Linked DNA regions of Homo sapiens: region 1 is linked to region 2. The links come from fine-mapping of genetic effects on gene expression. Tissue or cell type: whole blood. Region 2 holds a variant in brackets; the other region holds the start of a gene. All regions are shown on one strand. Distances are between the middles of the regions.

Evidence for each region. PIP is the estimated chance that this variant, and not a neighbour inherited with it, causes the effect.
Region 1: STK17B starts here. The variant in region 2 is fine-mapped to the expression of STK17B in whole blood (TOPMed, PIP above 0.99).

What each region holds. Positions count from the first base shown.
Region 1 is chr2:196,168,336-196,177,133 of GRCh38, forward strand. STK17B (serine/threonine kinase 17b) reads right to left here and starts at 3,243. Exons shown (of 8, transcript NM_004226.4): 1 at 2,998-3,243. It overlaps LOC101927454 (a long non-coding RNA gene), which reads left to right and starts at 3,204. Exons shown (of 2, transcript XR_923737.2): 1 at 3,204-3,296; 2 at 3,570-4,513. RefSeq lists silencers at 2,569-2,788, 3,309-3,538 and an enhancer at 7,966-8,225.
Region 2 is chr2:196,208,323-196,217,241 of GRCh38, forward strand. HECW2 (HECT, C2 and WW domain containing E3 ubiquitin protein ligase 2) reads right to left here. Exons shown (of 29, transcript NM_001348768.2): 27 at 8,686-8,771; 28 at 7,543-7,655. It overlaps LOC124906154 (small nucleolar RNA U13), which reads right to left and starts at 7,000; the gene lies at 6,897-7,000. RefSeq lists an enhancer at 3,404-3,453. The variant T/C (reference allele first, on the strand shown) is at 5,407.

The DNA of each region.
Region 1 (8,798 bases), 40 kb before region 2:
ATAAAAGGTTGAAAAACGGAAATAGAGTGGGGGATTCCGGGGTGGGCAACAAATGCATGGTGCTTGTCACTCACAAGACGGAAAATTGGGTTTCTGTTGTAAAATATTGTTTACTTAATAGCACCGCTTAAGTACTATTTATTCAGTAACTATTACAATGCAAAATGGAATCTGCCTTTAAGGATTAAAGAGGAAATTACCATCTCACTGTTAAAATTTTTCAATGCTTACAGTATCACTACACCCTCTTTTGGAGTAATTGCAAAGGGTCAGGGATGAACCAAAATACAATGCATATAAATATTAAAAGAAACTAATATATATGTTTTAAATGGCACTGAAGTTTGAGGTTAAATGTTCTGGAAAAAGGATAATAAAAAACTTAATAAAGTATGCCCTGAAAATTGCAACATTACAACATATTTAAATAAAAATACATGCTTGTAACTTTATAAGAACATTTCTTAACTGAAATATTCAAAGAAATAGCCTTTGATAACAGCCCAGCATAGAATACAAACTACAGTACTTAAACATAAAATCACTGAATTTTGTCATCAATATTATGAAAAACTAAAGCAACTGACATTTGAAGTTTTCCTAAGTGGAAAGGTAGTAGATAAATGACTGCTAATGTTTCTGACAAAACAAATACCCATACAGTGCAGAAGATTTCTTTATGAAAAGAAGAATCAATCAGTATCCTTTAAAAGTAGTAAGCCTAGGAATACTATTTTTTTTTTTTTTTTTTTTTTTTTTGAGACGGAGTCTCCCTCTGTTGCCCAGGCTGGAGTGCAGTGGCGTGATCTCGGCTCACTGCAACCTCGGCCTTCCGGGTCAAGCAACTCTTCTGCCTCAGCCTCCCGAGTAGCTGGGACTACAGGCGCGCGCCACAATGCCCGGCTAATTTTTGTATTTTTAGTAGACACGGGGTTTCACCATATTGGTCTCGAACGCCTGACCTTATGATCCGCCCGCCTCGGCCTCCCAAAGTGCTGGGATTACAGGCTTGAGCCACTGCGCCCGGCCAGAATACTATTCTTAACTGCCAATCTTACATACAGAAAATGTGAATTACAATATACTATGCATGCAATTTTAAGGCAATTTAACGATTAAGTGAAAGTGTTATTAACTGAATTCCTTGACTTCTTGTGTCTCTAAAATTAAAGCAAAAATATTTTCATAAGGAAATTCTCCCTTATAATTATCAAAGAGCTTTAAAACATGTTAAAATGTTCACTTAACAAAAGTAAAACAGAGCAAGCTTAAAAATAAAATTATCTGATTAGAAACGTCAGCCATAAAAATGCTTGTATCTTCTTCAAATTTGTTACTCATATGCTAACACAGCGATTAGTCAAACCTCCAACTTCCTAAAAACGCATTCTATCTTAACCAAATCGTAATTCACTAATCAATGATCCCAAGAGAAACCGCAACCATTCTATTCACACACAAAAAAGGATGGTCTTCAATTACAGAAATTCTACTTTTAAAAAGTCTTGCCATGTAAGCAAATATATTTCACCTCAATTTTGGATCCCTACTTTAGAAAAAAAAAAAGATCTAAAATGTACAATATGTATCTCAAAAATAAAACATCTATTAATACCTCCAATTATTAAGATACTAGAAAAAGTTTAATTGAGCATCTGCTCAGAGGAGGAGGATCCGAGGCAGATGAGTTTAAAACTTTTGCACCGCTTCTATGGACCAGTTTTCTTAAAAAATACACAATCCTAGGGGTACACGGTCTAATATTTATAAAATAAGCACTTGTTGAAAATTACTTCCGAACAGTTCACCATAAAACTAAAAAACAGTGTTATCAATGAGAAAGTAGGTTTATTTTCCTTTAATAAAATTGTGCTCCTGGGTTCAAAATGCCAGGTTACATACGCTGCCACTCATTTCTACAGAGCTATGCTGTCTCCGCGCAGACATTCTCATAGACTTGAAAACGTAAAGTGGCCACACCACGTCAAACGTCCCTGGCAAGGTTCTGCTTATCATTAGCACCACAGATGTAAACATTACGTCGACAAAACAATCGGTGAATGTGATACACAGTCCTCATGTGTTTAAATATTAGTGAAATCTGATAAGTATTACGATTTTAAAAACGTATTTTCTTAATTCCAATTTCCAAATTGATGTCAGAGTGCCTCTAGTCCAGACAGAAACTAATGCCAGCTACCAGCTGCTATAAAGCCTCTTTCAACTTTGTCTCTACTTCTCCCTCGGAGGAAATTCAAATGAAACGCTTTTCCCTACAATAAAACAAAGAGCCTGGGTAAATGTCAAAAATCGTTGGCATCCAGTAGTGGTATAGTTTGAGGATGAGTCGTGCACACTAAGTGGGTCACAAGGCATCAAAGCAAAAATCAGATCGCTGAAAATCACGGAAACAGCTGTAGCCCGTCTTGATCTCTCGCTGGTTTTAAAACACTGTTCCCAAGCAGTAACTGAAAACGTCCCACAAGATGAACACGAACTTTCTCTAGACGAAAGGCAGCTGGGAGCAGGACGCGTCCACGAGTCCCGATGGGAACGCGCCCACGCCGCAGCTGGGACTCGGGAGAGGCTAGGGGGACCGCGTGGCCTTGCTGTGGAAGGGACCCGCGCGGGCCCGCCGCGAAGGGGGCCCTGCCTGGCGCGACCTGGGGAGAGCCGGGGCCGGCCGGGTGGAGGGCGCACGGGGACACACGGACACGCACAGACACAGACACGCGCCCCGGGCTGAGGAGGGTGGTGGGAGGACCGCCGGCCGCCCCCCGCGCGGAGCCCCAGGGAACCCGGACTCCAGCCGCAAAGCGGAGAGGCGCCAGCAGCAATCAGCCACCTCAGGGGCGGCGGAGTCCAAGCCCCTCTCAGCCGGACCGTACCGCCTAAACCCTCCTCGGGTCCTCCTTCCTCACGTATGAGGTCTCTGTACCGAGGCGGCTGGTTCCATCGCAGCCCCGAGCCAACCCGCCAATCCCGCAGGACACTAACCGCTCCGGCCGCCGCAGGTTCTCCCGGGACTGCCCCCTCCAGGGGGCCGCTGTCCCGCCCCACGCCGGGGGCCGCCACAGGACGAGTTCTCTAGCTCCAGCCGGGCGAGGCGCCAGGGAGCTCCGAACGTGGCAGGATCCACTTTTACTTTTCCAGACAAGGGCCGACGGTTGTGACCTGGCTTCTCGTGAAGTGACTCCTGGCGACAGCAGCGGAGAGGACTACCGAAGCTTGCAGTCGCGGTTTGAAAACTGCAGCCGCGTCTGGGGCATCGCCGTTCGCCAGATCCCTCCCCCTAGGTCGGGAGAGCCAATCGGAACGGGTGCGGAGGGTGGGTCTGTCACGTGACGGGAGGGGCGGGGCACCGGCCGGGGGCGCGTGTGCGGGGCGGGGCCCGGCGGTGAGAGGGTGCGGCGCCTGGCTGGCCCGAGGCGGGGCGGGGAGGCGCGGCGGCGTGGCGGCGCAGGTGGGGCGCACTCGGGCTGCCGCGAGGGAGGGGCGGAGGGGGCGGCGCTGCAGAGGGGGCGCGCGGGGCTGGAACTACTGCTCTGTGTACTCCTTCCCACCTTCAGAGAGGTCAGTTCGAGAGGTGTGAATATCCGGAGACCGGGGAGAAGGAAGCCGCAAAATTCGTCCCAGCTGCCTGCGACTAGTTACCAAACTTCAGTGCCTACCAAAGACCTATTTTCTGACTCTTCTTGAGAGTCTTCCTTAGGACCGGAACGTACCCTGTAAGTGGAGAACCCAGTTTGCTACAACTTGGCAGAGGTTCCTCGGAGTGTCAACATCAGTTGGGGATTTATGGAACCTAGACCCCACTGCTAACGTCCGCTGTCGCGAATGGTGTCCCTTCTGAGGCACTGACTGAAGGCAGTGTAGGGAGGGTCCCAATAGGCTGAATAGCCGATTTTGCATTTATAGTGCTAAGGAAAAAGATGAAAGCCCTCAGCAACCTACTCAAGATCTGTTATCCTTTGAAGACAGTGGAAATTTTCAAAGTTCTGTGCAAGACACAAATGTTTTACATAGATATATAATCCTAGTTTATATGTATAGGATACACACATACTCATACATATATGGGATTAGTTATGTAATCTAGGATTGCTTTCAGAGGACATTTACGATAATTGCAGAAAACCCTTCCGTGGGAAAGGATACTGGGAGTGGAGTCGTCCTCTTGCTTTCAAAAGACTTAATGTTCAGTTAGCATATAAAGGACAGGTTTTCTTGTTCTATCCCAGTAAGCCAAGCAAATTCCTGTGAAGCTAGCTGTTTCCCTTTCCTACTGCATTTTCCCCAAGATAAAGGTATAGAATGCATCACAGCCCTTTTATGAAGTCTGTTTGTTGTTACTTAGGTTAACTCCTCCTCCCAGGTTAATAATGTCTTGCCCCTAAACCTTGTCAAATGGAGAATATTGCTTCCATCTATCTAATTTCTTGTTGCTAACAATTGGGCTGACTAGAGAAGCCTAAAGTTAGGATGAAAATAAAATGCCACACACTGGAATTAACTTTTCTGGGGTATAAGAATCCGTAAGCAATGAGACTGTTCCCATCTTTTCTTTCATGAGCATAGGTGTTGCATTCCAGAGGTCTCAGCACCAGTACCAAAACTAGTAACCTCTTGGGGGTCACAGGATTACATCATTATGGTGGTTTTGGGGTTGTGTGTTTAACTTTGGACCTCCTTAATTTCAACATTTCATCAATTGCCAGCTTTTAGCAATCTTCTCACACTCACCCCATACTCCCCGTCACTAATCCAGTCCCAGATCACTTCACACCTAGACACAGACTTTTCTCTCTCTGGCACCACTGTAAGCCAGTCCTCTTGGTCACAATACCTCTGCTGTAACCAGCCAGCCTCCTAGGGATATTGTCATGTCTTGCATTTTCCTGCTTCTGCCTTAGCTCCAGCTTATCACCATCCTCCTCATCCATACCTGTTCATCAGTTTCTGACTTTAAGAAGGTTACCCTCTTCAGGAATCAGAACTCTGCTGATTCCTACTTTCTGTTCCCAGCCTGATCACCTCTGCCTTATGTTCTTTGGTGCAGGGCTGATAGTTTGTGTTTCTTTTATGACCCTAAATAGATTGTTAACCCTTGTGCCTGATGTCAGATTTGTTAACTAGGACTTACCACACTATCCCAAGGACATTCAACTACACTTACTTGGTCTCAGGCACTGTGGTTCAAGTAACAAGGAATTCCTGGTGCTGAGGAGGAGGCAGTACATCTGTGGCCTTGCAGGAAAATTCAGAAGTCAATACATTCCTCCATCCACCTCATTTACCTAAACTCATTCATCACCGTGTCAAAGATATATGTTCCTGCTCTCATTCCCTTGAGTAGGAAATCTCCAGGTGACCTGATGGTCATTCTGTGGTCATTGCTTCTGACCACACAGTTCATTAAGTTGACCATCCTTGAATGACACATTCCGACCAGGGATGGCGGTTGTTATGGGCTCAGTTGTGTTCTTTTCCAGTTCATACGTTGAAATTCTAACCCTCAGGAACTCAGAGTATGACCGTATGTGGAGATAGGGCCTTTAAAGAGGTAATTAAGGTAAAATGAGATAATATGAGTGGCCCCTGATCCAAGATGACTGGTGTCCTGATAAGAAGAAATTAGGACACATACAACACTGACTAAGGGACCACCCTGTGAGGACATAACAAGAAGGTGGCCATTTGCAAAGCAAGCAGAGAGGTTTCAGAAGAAACAAGACCTGCTGATATCTTGATCAACAGCCTCTAGCCTCCAGAACTGTCTGTTGTTTAAGCTGTCCGCTCTGTGGTATTTGTTATGGCAGTCCAAGCAAACAAATACAGTGGTCCTCCTGGATCACTCCAGGTTAGTAATCACACACTGACTGGGAGCGATGATCGTTCCCAGTCACTGCTTACCACATGTGGCCAGGGAAGGTGATCCTCTCCGGTAATGGCACGACACTCACCATATTCTGTCCAGGGAAGGGACCTTCCCCAGTCACATCAAGTCAGTCACCGCATACTGACCACATAATGATCAAGGAAAGTGATTCTCACCGATTCCATGTTTACTCCCTGTAGATGCAGAAAAGGAGGGTTTTGCACAGAGCAGAAGGCCTCAAACTCAAAACTCTTGCCACTGACACACCCTCCTTCTGAAGAATTCATGTGGAAAAGGCAAAACAAGCTCTACTACCTGTCTAGAACTGAATATACCAGAAACCTGTGGCTAGGCTAAAGGTAGCCAGACGCAGGCAAGGCCAACAGCCTCTGAAGGGGCGTGGCTCAACCCCCCACCCAACAGGGGTGCTCACTGAATGGAGACAGGCTCCTCCAAACAGATCCCCTCTCTGGAGGTAGGAATAGTGAGTGTACTCAGATGGAGATGTCGCAGTGCATTTACTCATGGTGCCTACAGCACATTGCAATTTTGAAAGCACTGAGAACCAGAGAGACTCTAAGAGACCTCACATCCCCTGACTCTCTTGAAACACTATTAGCAAAGCTAATTGGGGCTAGTTTTGTCTGATGAGAGTAATAACTCAGACTGGTACAAGTGTCTTCCTTAAAGGGTGACACAGCTTTCCTCTCCAAAACATCCATGATCAACTAGGGCCAATATGCCAATCCAACCACTCACTGCAGTTTATAGAGTATAACCTGTCCTGTAAAAGCTGTCCAAAAGAAATGCCACGCACATTGGCAAATGTTCTACTAGTCATATTTTAAAAAGTAAACACAGATAAAATTAATTTTAACAATTTATTTTATTTAACCCAATATTTCTAAAACATTGTCATTTCAACATGTAATCAACAAAAATTATTGAGACATTTTACTTCCTTTTTTAATATTGTCTTAAATCTAGTATTTTATACTTACAGCATGTCCCAATTCAGATGCCAAATTTTCATCGGAAACACTTGATCTGTATTTAGATTTCACAAAATTTACTGTTGCAAAAAGCAGATTCACATTCCTAAGTTGTTTTGAACAAACTAAAGTTTTTCACGCCAGGTGTGGTGGCTCATATCTGTAATCCTAGCACTTTGGGAGGCCAAGGCGGGCAGATGATTTGAGATCAGGAGTTCAAGACCAGCCTGGCCAACATGGTGAAACCCCGTCTCTACTAAAAATACAAAAATTAGCCAGGCATGGTGGCAGGTTCCTGTGATCCCAGCAACTCAGTAGGTTGAGGCAGGAGAATCACTTGAACGCAGGAGGCAGAGGTTGCAGTTAGCCGAGATTGTGTACCACTGCACTCCAGCTTGGGCGACAAAGCGAGACTCTGTCTCAAAAATAAATAAAGTTTTTCAATAACTAAATACAGTATCAGTTTCTTAATATAAATTTAATGACAATGAAATAAAATAGAAAATTTTGTCATGTTAGCCACATCCCAAGTGTTTCATGGCCACATGTGGCTACTAAGTTAGGCAGTGTAGGTCTGAAGGGCTAGAAACGTGCCTTCTAATTGTGTCTAAATTTCCAGTGCTAGAGACAATCAGAGCAGTCTGGAGCTAGAAAAATTCTTGCAGTTCAGTAACCCAACTCCCTTGTTTTAGAAGGGAAGAAACCTACAGTGAGAGAAGTTGAGGGACTTGCAAAAGATCACACACCTAAATTCGGTGGTACATATCTGAACAATAATTTAGGTCTCCTGACTCTTAATCCTAAGATATTATTTAAGCCTCTTCACATCAGACATACTTCAGAATAAAGTAATTTTTAAATTTATCTGAATCATCACTCCGATGATACAGGCAAGAGAAAGCAAACCTGTATCCCAACTGCATTCTCATAACCTGATAAGAGCACACCCTACAATATTTAAGGCACCCTCCTTCCACTCTGTCTTAGGGTCCATGTGGTTTCATCTGTCAGCTCTCTTACCTCAATGCATCACTGCTTCCTCTCCTTGGAGCCACCTGGCCGAACATCGCTGCCGCCCGCCCACAGAGCATCCGGCCACATTTTTCTGTCTGCAGTTTTCCTCTCCCAGGTGTCTACCACACGTTATTTAAGGTTGTGCTTCAGAGAATCCTTTATATTTGCAAACCAAAATATTCAGTAGAAACTACAGTAAAGTTGTAGAAGAGCTGCTATGCTCCAGCCACAAACACACCAGGCTCTAAAGTTCTACCTCGTGAGAAGCTGTGAGAGAGAAAGAGAAGATATATGTGTGGTTAAGTGTGTGACATCAGGCAGCCCTGCCTTCAAGTCCCAGTTCTGCCCATTCCTTGTTGTGTGATTTTGGGCGATCCTCAGTTTTCTCATCTGTGAAATGGGGATAATAATAATAGCTACCTCCATGAGATTGAAATGGGATAATGCATACTAAGAACAGTGCCTAACAAGAATAAACCCTTGGTTCTGTTCCTACAAGCTATTATTATTTACCAGTGCTTTGCCAGCTCCCCATGTGCACTACTGCGCCCTGTGACTAGCAAGATGCTCAAGACATTGTGGGTTCTATATAAATATTTGTCAAATGGCTTTATAAGATACTTTCGATTTTCCTCACATCTTATGGTTGATGCTAGTAGGGATCATTGGGAGAAAAATGTCATTGGAAAGGAAAGGGGAGAGGGAGGTGACTGCTTTTCCTTTCAGTATCTATCTGGTGGAGACACCCAAGTTCGGAATGAAGCTCTAAGGGTCAACAAATGGTGGAGTCCAGGGGGCCGTGTGAGATAAAGAAATTAGTCACTAGTGTTTAAAGGAAGTAGATATCAAGTGGTGCAAAGAAATAAATACAGGGTATAAATATAGGGTGCTGTCTATTTGATTTGAGTAGATAA
Region 2 (8,919 bases):
TTGGAATTTCTTGTCTGGAGTGGTCCAAAGTTATCCCTAAAGATTTCAAATTCACTAAAAACAATATTTATGGAGTACATGTGCTAAGCACTGGGCTCACTGCTAGGAGCAAAGCCATGTTTAATTCAGATAAGGTACTTGTTCTCACAGGATTATACTCCAGAGGAGGAGACAGATAATCAACAAGTAAACCAATAACTGAACATGATGACTGAATTGGGTCAAGCCTAGTGAAGGAAGTAAGGGGTGAAAGAGTGACAGGTGCACTAAGGACAGAAGCCTGGTGGGCCTTTCTCAGGAGATCACCTCTAACCCGAGTCTTGGGGACAAGAAAGAGCCAGGCATGAAGGACCAGCAGATAAGTGTTATAGGCAGCAATTCCCTGAGCCTTGAAGCATAATTGAGTTTGGCATATTTGAGGAATACACAGAAGGAGGCTGGTAGGTGTCATGGGTTGGGGGAGAGGGTACATGTTGAGGTTGCAGGAGGAGGCAGACCAGGGCCCCACAGGAAGTCCTTGGGAAGGAGTCTGGATTTTATTCTAAGCCACCAGAGGGTGTAGGCAAGGGAGGGAGGTGACCTTGAGATGTTTGCAGATCCCAGTGGTTGTTGAGTGCAGAATGAATGAATGGTGGGATGCAGGAGAAGCAGGGGATTTAGCCAGCAGTCTACTGCAGTAGTCCAGGTGAGGGGGGATGGTGTCATGGACTAGGCTGGTGGAAAGAAATGAGCCCAAACTGGTTTTTGCTCTTGAGGCCAAGGAAAAGTGGGTAAGCATTCTTTAACTGTTGCAATGTCTGTCACTCACAAATAGACACTTTAAAATCTGACTTGTGAAATAGCTCTCAAGGACCTTTAGTAGATTTGACTTGGACTATCCTGTCCTCTGTTGTCAGCAGCAACAATGCTGATGGAATGCAAGTGGAATGATTATCTCATTCCATTAAAGTCACAAATTCTTTCAATAGCTTGACGTTTTACATTAATTACAGAAGAGTCCCTTTTTTTAATACAATCTGTTTTTATGATAAATTTACCCACCTCCCAAAGTAAAGACCAATCCAAAAGGTATATGACATTTAAGAATCTTTAATATGGTGATGTGATGGGTTAACTCTGGCATGTTTTTGTTAGTACATGCAGATTCAATGGCAGAATAAAGTGAAAATTTAAAATACAGTTATATAGAACTGAGTGAGAGGGCAGAGGGGAAAGGAGTTGAAGAGAGTCTTGGACCTGAGGTTCAACTACAGAGCAGACCACTGTATGAGAATCTCCTGTCAATTCTCTCCCACACGAAAAGCCACATCAGCTCATCAGCAGGCGGTAGGGAATTAGGAAGACCAACGAGGGACACCTCAGGGCAAATATAGAAAGGAGATGGCCCCAAAGGGTCCTTCTAGTACTCATCTCTTGTTCTGATGGTTTTTCTTTCTTTCTTTCTTTTTTTTTTTTTTTTGAGACGGAGTCTGGCTCTGTCGCCCAGGCTGGAGCGCAGTGGTGCGATCTCGGCTCACTGCAAGCTCCGCCTCCCGGGCTCCCGCCATTCTCCTGCCTCTGCCTCCCGAGTAGATGGGGCTACAGGCGCCCACCACCACGCCCGGCCAACTTTTTGTATTTTTAGTAGAGACGGGGTTTCACCATGTTAGCCAGGATGGTCTCCATCTCCTGACCTCGTGATCTGCCCACCTTGGCCTCCCAAAGTGCTGGGATTACAGGCGTGAGCCACTGTGCCCAGCCTGGTTTTTCTTTTAATTGAGGAAAGTGACATTGTATTTCAGGACTTGGTTATTTTCCGGTATACTGGCTGATAATTCACTTTGACAGTAGACAATGCTCCCTATAATGGAGGAGGGAAAACTGAATTATTGATAACATTACAGAGCAATATTTAATGACATGGAAAGATGTTCCATGTGATAAACGGAATGTTGTTTTAAAATGTGTGTGTGTGTGTATGTGTGTGTCTGTGTGCCTGTGTGTACCTGAAGAAATGAGTGAAATCACATACTCTAACATGTTAACAGAGCTTATCTTAGTAATTGACTTTTTTTTCCTTCAGAAATGGTATCTCTCTATGTTGCTCAGGTTTGACTCAAACTCCCATGCTCAAGCCTTAGCCTCCCAAGTACCTGGGACTCCAAGCATGCACCACCATGACCAGCTAGTAGTGGACATTGGGTGGACATTGGATTGATACATATGTAGGTATTTTAATATATATTTAATATATACATATATTTCTTAGCAATTTTTTGTAAAATTTTCTTTTTATAAATTAGAATAAAAAGCAGATTTTTTTTTCTTTTGAGATGGAGTCTCACTCTGTCACCCAGGCTGGAGTGCAGTGGCATGATCTTGGCTCACTGCAACCTCCACCTCCTGGGTTCAAGTGATTCTTCTGCCTCAGCCTCCCGAGTAGCTGGGATTACAGGTGCACACCACCATGCCTGGCTAATTTTTGTATTTTTTTTTTTTTAAGTAGAGATGGGGGTTTCACCATATTGGCCAGGGTGGTCTCAAACTCCTGACCTCAAGTGATCTGCCTGCCTTGGACTCCCAAAGTGCTGGGATTTCAGGTGTGAGCCACTGCACTCTGCCAAAAAGCAGAATTTTAAAAACAAAAAGTTGTTATGTTTTTAAAAAATAATTTTATCTTTTAAAGTTCTATTCCATTAGATTAACTGTCTCCATAAGACATCTATTTCATAATTAACTCTTACAATTTATTTCTTAATTTCAGTTAGCATTTCATTCATAATAATCTCCAGACACAGCCATTTTCAAAAATTAACGCTTTTCCCTTTGGCAATAACCAACACACCCCCATGACGATTGCAGCTCTCAGGTCCTCCGTCCCATCACCCAACTTGGCAAGAACCTGGGGGATGAACACAGAAACTCACACCATGGTGGGAGACAGGACTGCTCTGCAGTTTTCAGGCTGGCATCTTAGCAGCGCATTTTTTGGACTGTTTGAGAGCAATTGCCACAAAGTGAATGTACTCTCTTTTCATAAAGTCCATCAGAGCACCAGGGGTATGAAGTCTTCCACAGAAATGCAAAATACAGAGCTAACCACCGACCGCGAAGCAGAGGAAGTGCAGTCATGTGCTCAGGCTGTAGGTCTCCATGGAGACACCCTTCTGTCTACATCCTTATTTATCATCTGGGTCTCTAGTCACTTCATAACCACAAGAGGAAAAAAGAGCCATGGATTCAACTTGCACTGGCTGCAGAGACAACCATATATACTTTTATATACTCCTTGACTCATACTGTGAGCAGCGCTATCCACTGCTACCGCAAAGTGAGACTAGGAAATCTGAGAAAAGAATGAGACTCACATTTGCCTGCTTGAAAATTGAAAGGCCCTCCATCATCCTTGTCTAGAAAGACTAAGATTCTCTCCCTCATTGCTCCGGTTGCCAGGACTGCCCTCATCCTTTACAGCCCCTCCAACCCTCCAGGGCAGAAACTCCCATGCCCGACACAAGACCATGCCAGACTTCTTAGAGGATTCTTTTTTTTTCTTTTTGAGACAGAGTCTTGCTCTGTCGCCCAGGCTGGAGTGCAGCATTGCCATCTCGGCTCACTGCAACCTCTGCCTCCTGGGTTCAAGCGATTCTCCTGCCTCCCGAGTAGCTGGGACTATAGGCGTATGCCACCACGCCCAGGTAATTTTTGTATTTTTAGTAGAGACAGGGTTTCACCATGTTAGCCAGGCTGGTCTCAAACTCCTGACCTCAGGCAATCCGTCCGCCTTGGCCTCCCAAAGTGCTGGGATTACAGGTGTGAGCCACCATGCCCAGCCAGGATTCATTTTTTAAGTAAGAAGGACATCTATCCATTTTTCTCCCATGTGTGCAATGTAATTTTTTTTTTAATTTTAAGTTCAGGGGTACTTGTGCAAGTTTGTTATAGAGGTAAACCTGTGTCACTGGGGGTTTGTTTTACAGATTATTTTGTCACTCAGGTATTAAGCCTAGTACCCATTAGTTATTTTTCCTGATCCTTTCCCTCCTCTGACCCTCCACCCTCCATTAGGCCCCAGTGAGTGTTATTCCCCTCTATGTGTCCTTGTGTTCTCATCATTTAGCTCCCGCTTGTGAGAAGATGTAGTATTTGGTTTTCTGTTCCTGTGTTAGTTTGCTAAGGATAATGGCCTCCAGCTCCATCCAGGTTCCTACAAAGAACATGATCTCATTCTTTTTTATGGCTGCATAGTATTCCATGGTATATATGTACCATATTTTCTTTATCCAGTCTACCATTGATGGGCATTTAGGTTGATTCTGTGTCTTTGCTATTGTGAACAGAGCTGCAATGAAGATACACATGCATGTGTCTTATAACTGAATGATTTATATTCTCTTGGGTATATACCCAGTAGTGAGATTGCTGGGTTGAATGGTATTTCTGTTTTTAGATCTTTGAGGAGTTGCCACACTGTCTTCCACAATGGTTGAACTAATTTATACTCCCACCAATAGTGTATAAGCATTCCCTTTTCTCTGCAACCTTACCAGCATCTGTTATTTTTTTGTACCATGTCACATTTTAAATGTTAAACATCATTTCACTCATAGGAAAAAGAAATACACTGGGGCCAACTAGCTTGAGACAGACCAGCTCTTCCATTGTGCAACTTAACGCCTATCAAAAAATAGCAGAAAAATGGCTTCAGTGTATCTGTTCTGATGGTAGGAGAAATGGACTTGATAATATAAAAGAATCTCTTTAGGCCAGAACCAATTTTACAGATCTTTTTTTACACCTAAGTAATGCCCCACATTTCATTAAGGGTGATGACAATGTTGTCAATGAAGAAGTTGCTTCTCATATAACTATACTGTCATGCAATTAAGTTCTTTTAATTTTTTCCCTCCGAATGTACTTTTATTCTTTGTGGAGCCAATGTTAATAGTTAAAGTAGTACAGTGGCTTACAAAAGTCAGGATAAAAAGTTAAAAAAGAACAAAGTAAACACAGTGTTCCTAAGCCTTTCATATACATTATCTTACAATTGTCAAAAATACTCTGAACATTGTTACTCCTACCTTAGAGGGATGGATCTAGGGTTTTGCTTAGGATGATGTAACTAGTGTGTCATAGGGCTTAGATCTGTGCTCCTGCGTGTTACCTGGGTTACATAAGGTGACTGCAACTCTGAAGCAGAAAAGCCAAGTAACTCTTTCTTCTCATCAGACCCCAAAAGATGGGGCTTGTTACGGAGAGGGTATGAAAAGAGGCTGCTTGCTCAATGTGCCTAAGACCATCTTTATTTGTGCTGTTTTATAATCTGGGTAAAACTAGGAATGTAGAAGCAAACTTAGGTCATAGTGAAGACAGGGAGAAAGGACAGTGCCTGTTACCCAACTGTGTGTATGCTACAATAATGAAGAA[T/C]ACCACCATTTACAATGAGTTAGCACATGAACTTCCTGGAGCTCCAGGGGGAAGCAGAAATGCAAATCCAGCCTGACCCTCAAGATTCTTCAGCAACCCTTCGGTGTTACTTCTTGCTCAACCCAACCTAATATACCACCTCCTCCAGGCCTGTTACAAATGAGAAAATCAAGGCTCAAAGATGAAGTGTTCTCTAAGGTCCCAGAGTTAGCTGGTGGCAGAGGTGGGACTAGAAGCTAGGTCTTTTAACTCCTACCCCTGCCCTCTTTCCAATATGCAAATATCCTGCCTGATATGTATTACAGATGATGGTGACAGAAATCACAATGGCAGCGATCACTGACTGGATGCTTACTCATGGCCAGAGACAGTATTAAGTATTTTTCATGAATGATTTCACATCATCCTCAGAATTTCAAATCCACCAGATAGATGAGGAAACAGAGGCTCAGAAGGATCATGCAACTTCACCAAGACCCTGCTGCAGGTAAGTAACAGAGGTGGGACTCAGCCTAGGTCTCTCTGAAGCTAAAGCTCCAGGTCTATATCAAATTACTTGTCTCTACCCATCAGGTTTGGTGAAAATTACAGTGATTAAATATGAACAGTGGACATATCTGCTTACTGTTGCACTTTATTCCATATACTTTAGTGGCTTTACAGAAATAGATTTCAACAAAAAGCTGACCATTAATCTACCCTTTCCTTCTTCAATGCAAATTCTTAAAGAGTTTCTCAGAAGAGTAAAAAGCCTTATTCAGATAGGCTAAATCTGTTGATTTATGTGTTGAAGGGGAGAAAACTCATTATCCAAGCATAAATAAAATGAGCTAGTTCTTTAAATAATGAAATCAAATAATGAATTCCCAGATTTGGAAATCAAATATGCCAGGTAATACTTAGGTGTCTGGATGCACAGCCTGTTCAGACTGTGATGCGTGTGGGGTGGCCAAGGAGGCTCAGGCAAACCCTTGAGCAGTCATTCTTTATCGCTCTCTCCATTTGTATTTTCAGCACCCTTTTTCTCATCTGTTGATGCTGACAATACAGTTCTTAAGAACTGGCATCTTTCAATTGCTAAGAAGAAAGCTTTGATAACAGATTGCTCAGTTGCTTGTACTTAAAGAAACAGATGACATCTTGGGGTACCTAATGTCACCTTATATAGTAACAATAATATCACCTAATATCACTAATAAAATAGGTTTCTCAAAGTCATCTATACTTCAATTTAGGATAACATCTTGGGGTACCTAATATCATTTAATCTCTCTAGAGTATAGTTGTATTATTAGTAAAGTTAGAGGCAATTTCAGCTCCTTTTTACCTCAAAAATGCTACAGTATTACTACTAATTGGATAAAGGAATTCTAAAACAAATTTTCTTCCATTCCTCTTTTGTTCATATGCTCCTTTTCTGTTGCTCCAGCTCCAGTTATCTCCACTCAATCTCAAACACTTTTTGTACTAGTCCTTGCTTCTATTTTCCATATCAGATGGGTAATGTGTGGACGTTGTAATAAGGCTTGAGGGTGGCACATCTCACATATGTGCATGAACACCCAATTATCACACTGACAAATTGCAAAAGGATCAGTCTTTTGCTTTTATTAGCAGCAACAGCAAAGCATTTTTTTTCTATTCTAAGGAAATATGTAATCTTACTATGAATGAGAATACAATGCAGAGAGCATGGAATTAAGACATGTACGAGACAGGCTAAAGAGATCTAGAGCACATCCACATTATCTAATATCCTTTAGAAACTACAACGGTAATTTTTACTGAAGGGATTCTAAATAGTTATAAAGTTAAAACTCAAGCTTCTGGAAACACCTGATTAGAGCCACAATCATAAGCCACAAGCATGATAACCAACGTCGCTTTACTGATGCTAACAAATACTTTGCTTTTGTTGTGTTTTGTATTTTAAGATATGGATGTATGTATTTTAAGTGTGACCAGAGAGATCTTTTTTCCTCTTCGTTTAGAAAGGTTATCAGGGAGAAATTCATTCTAAGAGCTTTTCCGCTCTCCCAAACTTTTAATATAAAAGCAGTAATTAATCAATATATACATAAATGAATGTCTCCACCAAATGTTGTGACAGTAAAGAAATGTTATTTTATATTTTACCTGGGAAGAGCAGTGATTTTCCCCCATTTCTCCACACAGAATCTTCTTGGGCCGTTACTCCCTCGGAGTGAAGCAAATCCTTCATAGGGAATGCTGGATGTGCCTGTAACAAACTGTCAACCCAAGAAAACAGAAGGAGAAGGTGAAGCCAGAGACCAACAGCCAGGAAAGGCATCACGTCATTCACGGGCAGAGCTCCTGAGGAAGAGCAGGCAGGAAAGTTCTGAAGACAAAACTTCACAGGTGTGGAATAATCACAACACAATTCTGACACAGAGCCAGAAGATAATACTAAGAAAGAGAATACTGTGCATGATAAAGGGAAAGGGGATGTGGAGGGTTTGTAGAAAATAAAGCACCTGATGCAGCTGACCAGCTCAGAAGCTTAAACCGGGCACATTTCCCACTATAGATGAATAAAGTGGGATCAATTAACCCGAGTCAACTTAGCATCAGTCCTTGATCAATGTCGGGTGAATTTAAAAAAGAGAATGTCTGGGCCTGCAATTTTGAGGCCCAGACCCTTAATCCAAAGGAGCTAAGATCCAAAGGAGCTAAGAGTACTTGTAAGGCTCTGCCTGAGCATCCAGAGACTTCCTTGTGTCTGGTATTTCTATAGCTGCAACTGATCAGTAATTGTCCTGGATGACCATAAACACCACACGCAAAAAAAAAAAAAACACAAGTTAGTTTTCCCACTGTTCTTGAATGTCACTGTTTTCTCAAATTTGTGGAAAGTTAGATGAAAGAGAAGAAAGGACTGTCAACTAACTGCATCCCTTTTTAAAGAACTTAAAATCATTTCTTTCTGCTGCTAGGGATGCCGGCCTGCACTTTGGGTACCCTGGGTGCTTCTTGCTGAAGGGTCCAAGCTGTCCTGAAGGCAGATGTTGTTACTGGGATTCTTGGACTGGACTTGACACTTCCCTAAACTCTCATGAAATGCTTTAAGTTGGCTTAGGGAAGTTCTGAATAGCCATGGAGTCACATAACCATGCAATCAGGAGTCTGGAAATGGTGTATCTCATATTTCCAGATACACATGGTATGTGTTTATGGAGAATAGTTAGCAGTTATTAAAAACATACACTTCCAACAATAATCATATTGATACATTTAAAAGATTAAATAATGGCATCTCACCTGTAACAACCTTAGTCGTTGTTCATTGTTGAATCTTTCCACTGCAGCCCAGAACCACCGAATTACAATATGATTGTCATGGTATCCTATCAAACCAATCATAAAAGCCCATGTTACTTTGACTCTTCTATATTAAGCCACCAAGATACGTGACACGAAGAGTCCCCAGACATAAATCATCCTCTTGAATTCTTTACAAGTTGTCTATAATTTTAAGACTAAGGAATAACACTG